Homo sapiens: one gene and its partners. The protein of the gene in region 2 interacts with the protein of the main gene of each other region in a pairwise test. Each region holds a gene or a part of one and is shown on either strand. Other genes may lie near its edges.

Region 1 (3,659 bases), on a different chromosome or scaffold from region 2:
CAGTGGCGCATGCCTGTAATTCTAGCACTTTGGGTAGCTGAAGTGGGTGGATCTCTTGAGCCTAGGAGTTTGGGACCAGCCTCAGCAACATGGTGAAACCCTGTCTCTAAAAATGTATATAAATTAGCTGAGCATGGTGGTACACTCCTGTAGTCCCAGCCTCTTGGGAGGTTTGAAGTTGGAGGATCGATCACCTGAGCCCAGGAGGTAGAGTCTGCAGTGAGTTGTGATTGTGCCACTGCACTCCAGCCTGGGCAACAGAGTGAAACCCATCTCAAAAAAATAAAAATACATCAGAATGTTTTATTGTACAACCAATTTCATTGGTACATACAAAAATGTAATCAAAACAATGGACTTTTTTTGATGTTTTAAACAATTTTTTTTTTAGGAATTAGTAGAAAGAAAATAAGGGAAAGAAAATGGGGTTATGTTTATGAATACTTAAATAGACCAGAAGTAGAAAACTGTGGTTTGCTTGCTGGCATTGAGCTGTATTAGGATATTAAATGTGTAGGGTCAAGTTCTGTGATGATTCAATCTTTGCCTTGTATTGATGGCATGTCCAGATCTCTTTGTTTTTATGGACATTTTTTGCTTTGCTGATGTGACTTCAAGATTTGTAAGTTTTTAATTTTATTCTTAGGTATGGAGAGAAAAACAATGCATTCATTGTTGCCAGCTTTGAAAATAAAGATGAGAACAAGGATGAGATCTCCAGGAAAGTTACCAGGGCCCTTGATAAGGTTACCTCTGATTATCATTCAGGATCCTCTTCTTCAGATGAAGAAACAAGTAAGGAAATGGAAGTGAAACCCAGTTCGGTGACTGCAGCCGCAAGTCCTGTGTACCAGGTAACCATGAAAACAGCTCAGTTTTAAAGGGATGTGCAGGGATTGCCAGGACCTTTCAGGTAGTCCTACTTGGCATTGCCCAAGGTTTCTGACTTGAGATTCTGGATAATAGTTCTTGCCTTTCCCCATGCTAAGGGAAAGCTGTTTCTCTGGCACGTAAATAGGCATCCTGAGTCATTTTATCAAAGGTCAGCTTCACTATACAATAACTAGGATAAATATATTTCAGAAAAATTGGCAAAAAGTAGAAAATTCATGATGGTAAAACATTCCTGATATTTTAAAATCTCATTCAAAAGTTACCACTTATTTTTTGTAGTATGTAACACTTTGTTTTGTACCTTTGGGTTTAACTTTCTATTCTCTCCCGTTCCATGATTAAAGAGAAACCTCTCTAAATTTATTATATTATAATTAATATTTTACTCAAGCTGAAACATTGTCTCCCTTTTTGCTTTACTAGTTGAAAAGTCATATAGCTAGTGTGCCTGCACTTACAGATCCATTCACTGATTTACTATTTATATCTACATACCAAAGAACATTTAATCGACTTTAAAAAATTGTTGACCAAACAGCATTCTTCAACAGGAAAGATATTTTAAAGTCATAACAATTTAAAGAGATTTTTTGAGTTGAGCCTTATTCTGTAAATGTACTTATTACTAATTTTTAAAGGTTATCTATTTTTACTTACTTGCTTTGATTAAATGTGAAACATACCAGGTTTGTGGTAAGGTTGAGCTGAAAATGAAAATTTAGACCTAATGAGTAAGAAGCAGAATATTGGAGCTTTTAGTATGATAAACTAAACTTTTAAATTCAGCATACATTTACATAATGAACATTATTTCAGTGTAACTTAATTTTTGGTTTTCTCATTTTTTTCTCAGTTGAATTATTCTTCCTAGACTTTAGGGGAAGATTATTTCTGAAGATTATCATAATTTAGGATTCTATGTATATGTGTATGTATATGTATATGTATATAACATGTACCTGGCTTTATGAAACTTCAAACAGTACAAGACAGTATAATAGTGAGAAGTCCTCTTTCTCCCCAACCACCAGTCCCTATGCATTTCCACAGAGACATTCATTACCAGGTTTTTTTTTCTTTTTTTTAGTATCCTTCCAGAGACATTCCCTATATAAATAAGTAAACATAGTATTTGTACTTCAGGATCATTTTTAAAAACCTTGCCATAAATATTTGAGGCATTTTTTTTCTCTGTGTGATGGATTATATATTGCAAATTAGGTATATTGAATTTTCTGGAATTCATCCAAATGTGTGGCAATTTTACCTCAGAATTTTATTTGTTGTTAAGCAAGAATGTAAGTCTCAAATTAAATTGATTGCTGCTAATTTTTTACAAGCAAATTAACCTTTAATTTTTAGGATTTCTTTTAAAATTAAATTGCATTTATTTTCCCTCATGTTGAAAGACTATTAGGATAACAGAAAGGTATGGAAATTGAGGTGTCTCTTACGTGCTTTTTAAGGAAAACATTTCTCCTTGGCCTAATACTCATTAGCAAAACATTTTATAATAGAGAAACACTACTTGTGTGAAAGCTAGTGCAAATGGCCCACTTTGATTTTCTTCTTTCTAGTATCTTGAATCTGGCATTGCCACAAGCTTTAAAAAAGTTTTATCAAATAAGGACAACAAAATTTCTAGCTTGGAATTTTTGTTCTCTACTGTTTTCTAAAAGGTATCCCAAGAGAGGGGATAAAGAATTATTCATATCTTAAAAAACGAAGAAATGAAGATTGTGTCAGTTCTCCTGAAATAGATCTGTAGATCCAATTCAGTATCAATGAACATCTTAAAAGGTTTTTTTCTGGAAAGTGACAAATTGATTCAAAATTTTAAAAAAGGAGGATCAGTTGGAGGGCTCACACTAATTCAAAGCTATTATATATTCATCAAGACAGTGTGGTAATGGTTTAAAAACATACAAATATATTGATGGCACAGGATAGAGAGTCCAGAAGTAGACCCACATACATACAGTTAGTCTTTTTTCTCCCTTTTAACAAAAGTGCCAAAGCAATTCAATGGGGAAAGTCTTCAAGAACTTGTGCTGAAACAACTGGATGATCTGTGTAGGAAAAAAAACGAACCTAACTTAGCTGACACCATACACAAAAATATTGATTTGAGATGGATTGTGTACCTAGACATAAAAGATAAATCTCTGACGCTTTTAGAAGAAAACATAGGGAAATATAATCTTTATTTTGTGACAGGCAAATATTTCCTCTAGAGGGTCACAAAAAGTAACTAATAAGGGAAAAAAATTGACAAACTGGACTTCATCAAAATTAATCATCTTTTTGTTCATCAAAGAAACCATTAAGAAAATGGGCAAACCATAGACTAGGACAAAATATTCTCATTACATATATCTGTAAAGGACTTATTTCCAGAATATACTTTTTTTAAAATCGCTCACAAATCACTAGTAAAAGGTAAATGATTCAATGAAAAATAATGGGCATATCCTGCTGTAATCTCAAAAAAAGGGCAGGAGGAGCAAAAGATGTGAATAAACACTTTACAAAAGGAGTTATGTGAATGGCCTCATTTATGATCAGAGGAATGCAGATTAAATCCATATGAAACACTAGTTCTTCCAGAACTGCACAATTTAAAAGCCTGACAGCATGAAATGTTAGCAAGGATGTGAAGCAGCTAGATTCATAAACTTGCTAGTCATGTAAAATAGTACCACTACTTTGGAAAACTGGAACTTTTTAACGTTAAATGTGTAACTCTTCTATTACTCAGCAGTTCC
Region 2 (3,659 bases):
CTCTCCTCAGTAAAGAGCTAGATTTAGACAGTTCAGCTTTCTTGTTTCTAGATATTTCCTCTTGTGAGCCAGGATAGAACAGATAAGATAACCTTCTTGCCTGTGATCTGTGGAAGCCTGGCTCAACTCAAAGGATGTCTTTCAATATCTGAGTAATTAAAATTACATCCTTGAACTACTAATCTCTTTATTTTCTCTCCTTTCTTACTTTACCTTCTCTTTCACTATAACTGAGTAGGAGTGTTTAAGGGATCAAGGACTAACAGCATCATGTAGAAATTTACATGTGGTCTAGTCCTGCTTTAAAAGAGAGGTAAGATTAGATCACCTCTAAGGTAATTATTGAAGATGTTTACTTTATTTAAAACCTTCTTTGGTTTGGGATCTTCCAATTTTCTCCAAGACTCACCTCTCCCACCCATCTCTCAACTAGTTCCCCAGAAGCTGTTGGTTTTTGACTTTCGTTTGTTTGCCTAAAAACCCACTTCCCTCTTCTCAGCTCTCTGGGACCCTAAGAAAAGGTCTTTTCTGTTTTCTATGAAATACTCCTTAAGGCTCTTGACATACAAATGGATTCCTTACTTTGTTATTTTCTCTGACACGGTGATTGCTCTTTCCTGATACATGTCTACCTTGTCTTTAGAAACCATGTTAACATTTCAAATTCTCCGGCCTATTACAAGTTAAAACATAAAATCTGCATTTACTTAGAATGATAATCCTGTCTGTAGCCAGTGCTCTTAATCCTGCTTGGACCACATGTGTGAAAGAAGGGGAGACATGTCAGGAGTCAAGTGACAGGCATTTAGAAGATGCTCTAACTCCATAGACCCAGGGGCTACGTAGGAAAGTGATTCGTTTATTGTTATTTTTAGAATGGTTAGCTTTTGCATTGTACTTTTAAAAACACACCTTAAACCAGTCTTTTTTGAATTTGGAAAGTGACAGAATGGACATCTACTAAGTCAGGCCTCTGCAGAAGTGAGCCTCGAGATCGAGTTTGAATTAAATGTCTGATTTGAAAACATCCTAAAATGTAGAGTTGTGAATAGAAGTATACATTAACTTTGAATTGTGAGTCTGGCTGTTTAATTTGGGGTTTTATGTTGCCAAATGGATTGAGCAAATAAGAATTGTTTTATAAAGAGAGTAAAACTTTCCCAGTTATTCTGATAGTTGTCTTCTGTTGAGCCATTTTTAGAAATTACAATTGAACCAGGAATTGAGAAGGGAGTTCTCTTTAAGGGAATATTGGGTTTTTGAATAGAATTCAGTCATATATGAATGTGATTTTTAAAAATTTGAGGTCCTGTCTCCTTAATCTTTTGTTTTCCTAGCCCCATCCAGGAAGTCGGTTTTGACAGACCCAGCTAAACTCAAAAAGCTGCAACAGAGTGGCGAGGCCTTCGTACAGGATGATTCTTGTGTGAACATCGTGGCACAGTTGCCTAAATGCCGAGAGTGTCGCTTGGACAGTCTCCGCAAGGATAAGGAGCAACAGAAGGACTCACCTGTGTTTTGCCGCTTCTTTCACTTCAGGAGGTGAGGCATTTTGGGAAAAGTTCAGATAATCTGGGCATACTTGTTATGCTAGATCATCTGGCATACTTTTGTTACTCTTTTATCAACAGTAAATCTAGAAGTAAAAAGGTGGTAGATGTTGCATTTATAATCTCTAGGTTGGAGAATCTAGATCTTATTGCATGTTACTTTTCATTCTTATTTTTGATTTTTTTTAAAGTAACAAAGCTTAAAAATATAAACTTCTATTTCAAAAAGTAACAGTCATTATAGAAAAATGTCGAAGGTTCTGAAAAACCACTACAAATAACTACTGTTAACTTTTCAGTGCACTGTATGATCATAAAATGTATACCTAGTTGGTATACCTAGTTGGTATATTGCACACCCTGTTTTGAATCTTACTTTCCCATTACATAGTAGGAACCTCTTGATCATAACCTTTTTCTTTAAATACTTTTGAATTTCTGTGTAAGAGCACATTATAGTAATGTTTGATAATTTATTTCACCAATTCCCTTGTTGGTATTAAGATTATTTTGTATTTTTTGTGACTGGAAGTAATGCAGAAATGATCTTCTTGTCCATGTCCCTGATTATTTGCTTTGGGAGGATTACTAGAAGTGGCATTTCTGGGTCAGAAGGTGTGTGTGTTTTAAGGCTTTGATACACCTGTTCTGCCAAGTTATCCTACAGGAAGGTCGCACCTGTGTCCTTGACAACTGCAGGGTTTGAGCATGCTCCCATGGTCTCTGTACCATTGCCAGCAGGGAGAGGCATACCTTTTTAAAAAATCTTTTCCAATTTTATAGGCAAAATTTTCATATATATATATGTGTGTGTGTGTATGTATATGTGAATATATGTGTGTATATATATGTGTATATATGTGTGTATATATGTATATATGTGTGTATGTGTATATATGTGTATATGTGTATGTGTGTATATATGTATATATGTGTGTGTGTATATGTGTATATATGTATATATATGTGTGTATATATATATATTTTCAAAATCATTTTCTTTAAATTCTTCTATCCTGAGTGAAGAAAAAAGCAGCCCTATCTTTTTTGTTCATATAGAAATGAACAGTGTTGGTATAGTTGAACTTGAGATATAATTCACTTTCTCAGAAATCTAGGTACTTTCAGGTTGGACTAACTCTAATCATAAACAGAAGAGTTGATTTCAATTCCTATTCTCCTCCTCCCTTTTCATTTTATCTAAGTTAAAAGATTGCTGATGAGCTGAATTAAATGCACAGGGAATTTAGATCATTATATCTGTGCTCGTAACTTTCAGATTCAGGCTTATTTAACGAAGTAAGAGTTTTTTAGGTACTAGTTTGCCCCATTCATCCCTTTGTAAATTGCAAAAGCACGTCATAAAGCATGTGGGTAGCATTTAGAGCTGTAATACTGTTAACGTATGTTAACATATGCATATATTAATATATTCTGAATAACGCCTGGCCCAGAATAAGCTGTTAGTAGAGGGTAACTCTGTTTCCCTTCCTCTCGAGAATTTTCTTCTTAAACAGTGTGTTACAATGCATATTCATTTGTATGTGTATGAATTTTGAAGACACTGAAATGGTTATGCTTTGTACAGGTCTTTGTGTTTCTATTCACTTGATTTCATGTTGTTATGGCTCCTCTGCTATGAAAAATATAACTAGATTGGATGAGAGAGTGGTTTAAGTTGCAAAGGCATTTTAGGGAAGGGATAATTTTTTTTTCTTTCTTTTGTTCTTTGTAATATGATTAGAGCTTTTTTTTTTAACCCACTACATTTTTGTAACAGTCTAGAAGTCATTGACTTTATGACTTAGCTGTTTTTTTCATTTTTGACTTCTTTAAAGGGGAAAGTACCTTTGCCTAATGCTGCGTAGTAGAAGCCAGTGTAGTAGAAACCAGAAGAAACTCATATCTTGGTAAAAGAATATCATAATTTAACTTTTTTCCTGATGTTTAGAGTGAAGATTGAGGCTGTCATTAGCCTCCTCATCAAGTTTGTATCTCATTAAACTCTTCTGCAAATAAAATAGGAGTAGGGGTAGGGTCTCAGTGGTAAGGCTCAGCTGCTAGGTCCTATTGCCATTACCTCCCACTTTGAAATGCTTTCAAATTTAT
Region 3 (3,659 bases), on a different chromosome or scaffold from region 2:
TATGTATACTGTACATACATACCTATCATACATACATACTTACTTTTCCCATGCATATATACCTATGATAAGGTTTAATTTATAAGATAGGCACAGTAATATATTAACAATAACCGATAATAAAGTAGAACAATTCTAACAATATTCTGGCATCACTATTCTTGCACTTTGGGCCATTAGTAGTAAGAGTTGACTTAATTAGTAATAAGAGTTATTTGAACAGCCTAGGCAATGTGGCAAAAAAACATAACAAAACAAAACAAAAAATATAGCTGGGTGTGGTGGCACATGCCTGTAGTCGTAGCTACTGAGGGCTGAGATAGGAGGATCACTTGAACCCAGGAGGTAGAGGCTATAGTGAGCTGGCACTCCAGCCAGGGTGACAGAGTGAGACCCTGTCTCAAAAAAAAAAGTTACTTGAGTACAAGCACTGTGATCCTGACAGTTGTTCTGGTACTAACAGGGTGGTAGCTTATACAGCATGGATATGCTGGACAAAGGGATGATTCACATCCTGGGTGGAATGGAGCTGTAGGTTCATCATACTACTTAGAACTGCATGTGACTTAAAACTTATGAATTGTTTATTTCTAGAATTTTACATTTAATATTTTCAAACCACAGTTGAGCAAGGGTAATGGAAACTGCGGAAAGTGAAACCAAGATAAGAGGGGGACTACCGTATAGGGAAGTTAGTCACTTATGTACATCTCACACAGTAAGCTAATGTCAGGGACAACAGTAGAACACGAATTAAATAAGATTCTTCATAAAGAAATTTCTGAGCTAGGTGTGATGGTACATGCCTATAGTCCCAGTTACTCTGAAAGCTGAAGCAGGAGGATCTCTTGAGCCCAGGAGTTCCAGTCCAACCTGGGCAACATACCAAGACCCTGTCTCTTAAGAAAAAAAAAAAAAAAATTCTGAAAGCCAAAATTAGTAGGGAAATTTGTTTTGAGTTTCCTACATTTTTTCAACTCTTGGAATCAGCTCCCGTAATTTATGTTTTCCTAGGTAATTGGCTTCTAAATCTTGAATAATAAACACTGAATAAACATAGTTTTTCTTCAGTTGTTCATTTCTTCTTAGGGACAGATTCACTAATTCACAAGTAATTTGAATTATCATAACTGATCAGTTATGAAAAACTGTTACTAATTCAAGGATATTGCATTATCAGAAATGTTTTGGCAAATTTTATAAGCAGAGGAAAACCTCACATAACAGAGATAAAACCAAAAACTCATTTTAAAGGGTCATATAACAATATGTTTATAGATGTTTATTGAACTGCTGTGTATAACGCCCTGTGCTAGGTACATTATATACACAGATGAATAAGAGTAATTTCCTTCTGAAGTTCCTTAGCCATGTAAATGGAGTATGCAGTCATAAATGTGCATAATGGATGGCTGGGTGTGAATTCACCATTTTCCAAATTCTGAAGAGTAGTTGACATTATGATGGTCTGGGGAAGAAAATGATTGATAGGTTTGTATTTAAATCACTGAGTAGTGATGGAAACTAATCCAAGCCTAGCTTATATAGACAGGAATAAACCACTTAATTTTAACACAAAAGAATAGTATTTAAGTAAATCATCTACTCAGCAGCTACCATTTATTGAATGCTTACAAGTAATGTTTGGGCCTTTTTGCATATATTACTTTTCATTTTCCTCACAGTAATCCTTCAAAATAGGAATTTTTATCTCCAGTGTACAGATAAGTAAACTGAGATTAAATCTAATGTCTCACGTCAAACAGATGTGGGTCTCTAAATCACATCTGATTGGCTCCATGGCCCTGCCATTCCATTATTGACACTCTACCTCCTTTACTTAGTCCAAGCCTCAATCTCTTAACTATAAAATGAAAATAATAATAGTACTTACAGGCACAGTGCCTAAAATGTGGTAAATACTTAACTATAGATAGACATACAATCACACTCCCAAAAATTCCCAAAAATTTATTAAGTACCTAGTTTATACCAGATATTTCATATTTATAAGCTCAATCTCTAGAACCATCCTGCATGTAGGTAATTGTTAGATTTCGAGGATGAAGCTCTGAGACACTGAGAGAAGGTAACCAATTAATATGAGCCAGGATTCAAAGTCTGTGTTTCTAAAGTTATTTCCCGTTCTACACTGTCTTTTCCTTCAGTTATATGTTATATTCTCAACTCTTTATATTTTCTTTCCATGTATTTTGTACAAACATATAAAATGTGTTAGATTGTATTTTACTTCTATAATTTCCTAATCATCTCCAGTTAAAGTGTATATATATTTATGTATTCATTACAGTTACAGAGTGTTTCAAGTGCCATTCACCTATGTGACAAGAAGAAAATGGAATTATCTCTGAACATACCTGTAAATCATGGTCCACAAGAGGTAAAAAAAAAAAAAAAAAAAAAAAGGTTATATTAAACTCAAAATGTGAGAAGAATTTGAAAAAATCATTTGGTCTAAGCCCTTCTTTTATAGAAGGAAAACTAAAGCCCAGGGAGCTTTTAGGATTTGTTTGGTAGCTCATGTCAATCTCCAACTTGAAACCCAGCTGTACTGATTCTCAGTTCATTGTTCATCCCATCAAATCACAATTATTGCTTCTTTGTTTGACATTGAGTTCTGTCCCTGTCATTGTTTTATACAATAAATGATATCCCAGGGTATTATGTAGGCAAATCATTGATTACAGTTTTAACACTGTATTTATGCTACCTTGTTCTTACCTCTTATAATAATTAATGAGAGGAAAACATTGCTGCCTAGGAAGAAAGATCTCTTTAGTAGCATTCAATCAGACTTATATTAGTCTGAATTAGTAATTTCTTTTAAGAATGTATATGTATGTTCATTTTACAGAATTAGAAAAGTAACATAGATTGAGCATCCCTAATCCAAAAATCCAAAGCCCTCCACAGTCCAAAACTTTGAACACCAACATGATGCCACAAGTGGAAAATTCCACACCTGTGTTAGTCTGTTTATCGTTGCTATAATGAAATACCTAAGAGTAGGTAATTTATAAAGAAAAGAGGTTTATTTGGCTCACAATTCTGGTAGCCAGAAAGTCCAGGATTGGGCAGCTGCATCTGATGAGGACCTTAGGCCGCTTGCACTCATGTTGGAAAGTAGAAGGGGAGCGAGCTATGCAGAGAAATCACATGGTGAGACAGGATGCAGGAGAGTGAAAATGAGGAAGTCAGGTTCTTTAACAGCTTGCTCTCTCAGGAATCCACTCACCACTTCTAGAATGGCACCAAGCTATTCATGAGGGATCTTCCCCCATGACCCAAACACCTCCCATTAAGCCCCACCTCCCAACACCACCACATTGGGGATCAAATTTCAATGTGAGATTTAGTGGGGACAAACAAACCATATCAAACCATAGCAACATCTGACCTCATATGATAGGTCGCAGTCAAAACATTGTTTCATGGGTGGACACGATGGCTCAAGTCTGTGATCCCAGAACTTTGGGAGGCCAAGGTGGGTGGATCACTTGAGGTCAGGAGTTCGAGACCAGCCTGGCCAACATGACAAAACCCCATCTCTACTAAACATATAAAAATTAGCTGGGCATGGTGGCGCATGCCTGTAATCCCAGCTACTCGGGGGGTTGAGGCAGGAGAATTGCTTGAAC

Evidence for each region.
Region 1: the proteins of KDM3A (region 2) and BTG3 interact in a two-hybrid assay, tested with the Homo sapiens proteins (one large-scale study listed by BioGRID and IntAct).
Region 3: the proteins of KDM3A (region 2) and RIPK2 interact in a two-hybrid assay, tested with the Homo sapiens proteins (one large-scale study listed by BioGRID and IntAct).

The regions. Positions count from the first base shown.
Region 1 is NC_000021.9:17,595,812-17,599,470, reverse strand, and holds part of BTG3 (protein BTG3), read left to right. Parts: intron 1-646; coding exon 647-854; intron 855-3,659. UniProt on the Homo sapiens protein: Overexpression impairs serum-induced cell cycle progression from the G0/G1 to S phase.
Region 2 is NC_000002.12:86,468,867-86,472,525, forward strand, and holds part of KDM3A (lysine-specific demethylase 3A), read left to right. Parts: intron 1-1,337; coding exon 1,338-1,542; intron 1,543-3,659. UniProt on the Homo sapiens protein: Histone demethylase that specifically demethylates 'Lys-9' of histone H3, thereby playing a central role in histone code.
Region 3 is NC_000008.11:89,781,739-89,785,397, forward strand, and holds part of RIPK2 (receptor-interacting serine/threonine-protein kinase 2), read left to right. Parts: intron 1-2,311; coding exon 2,312-2,401; intron 2,402-3,659.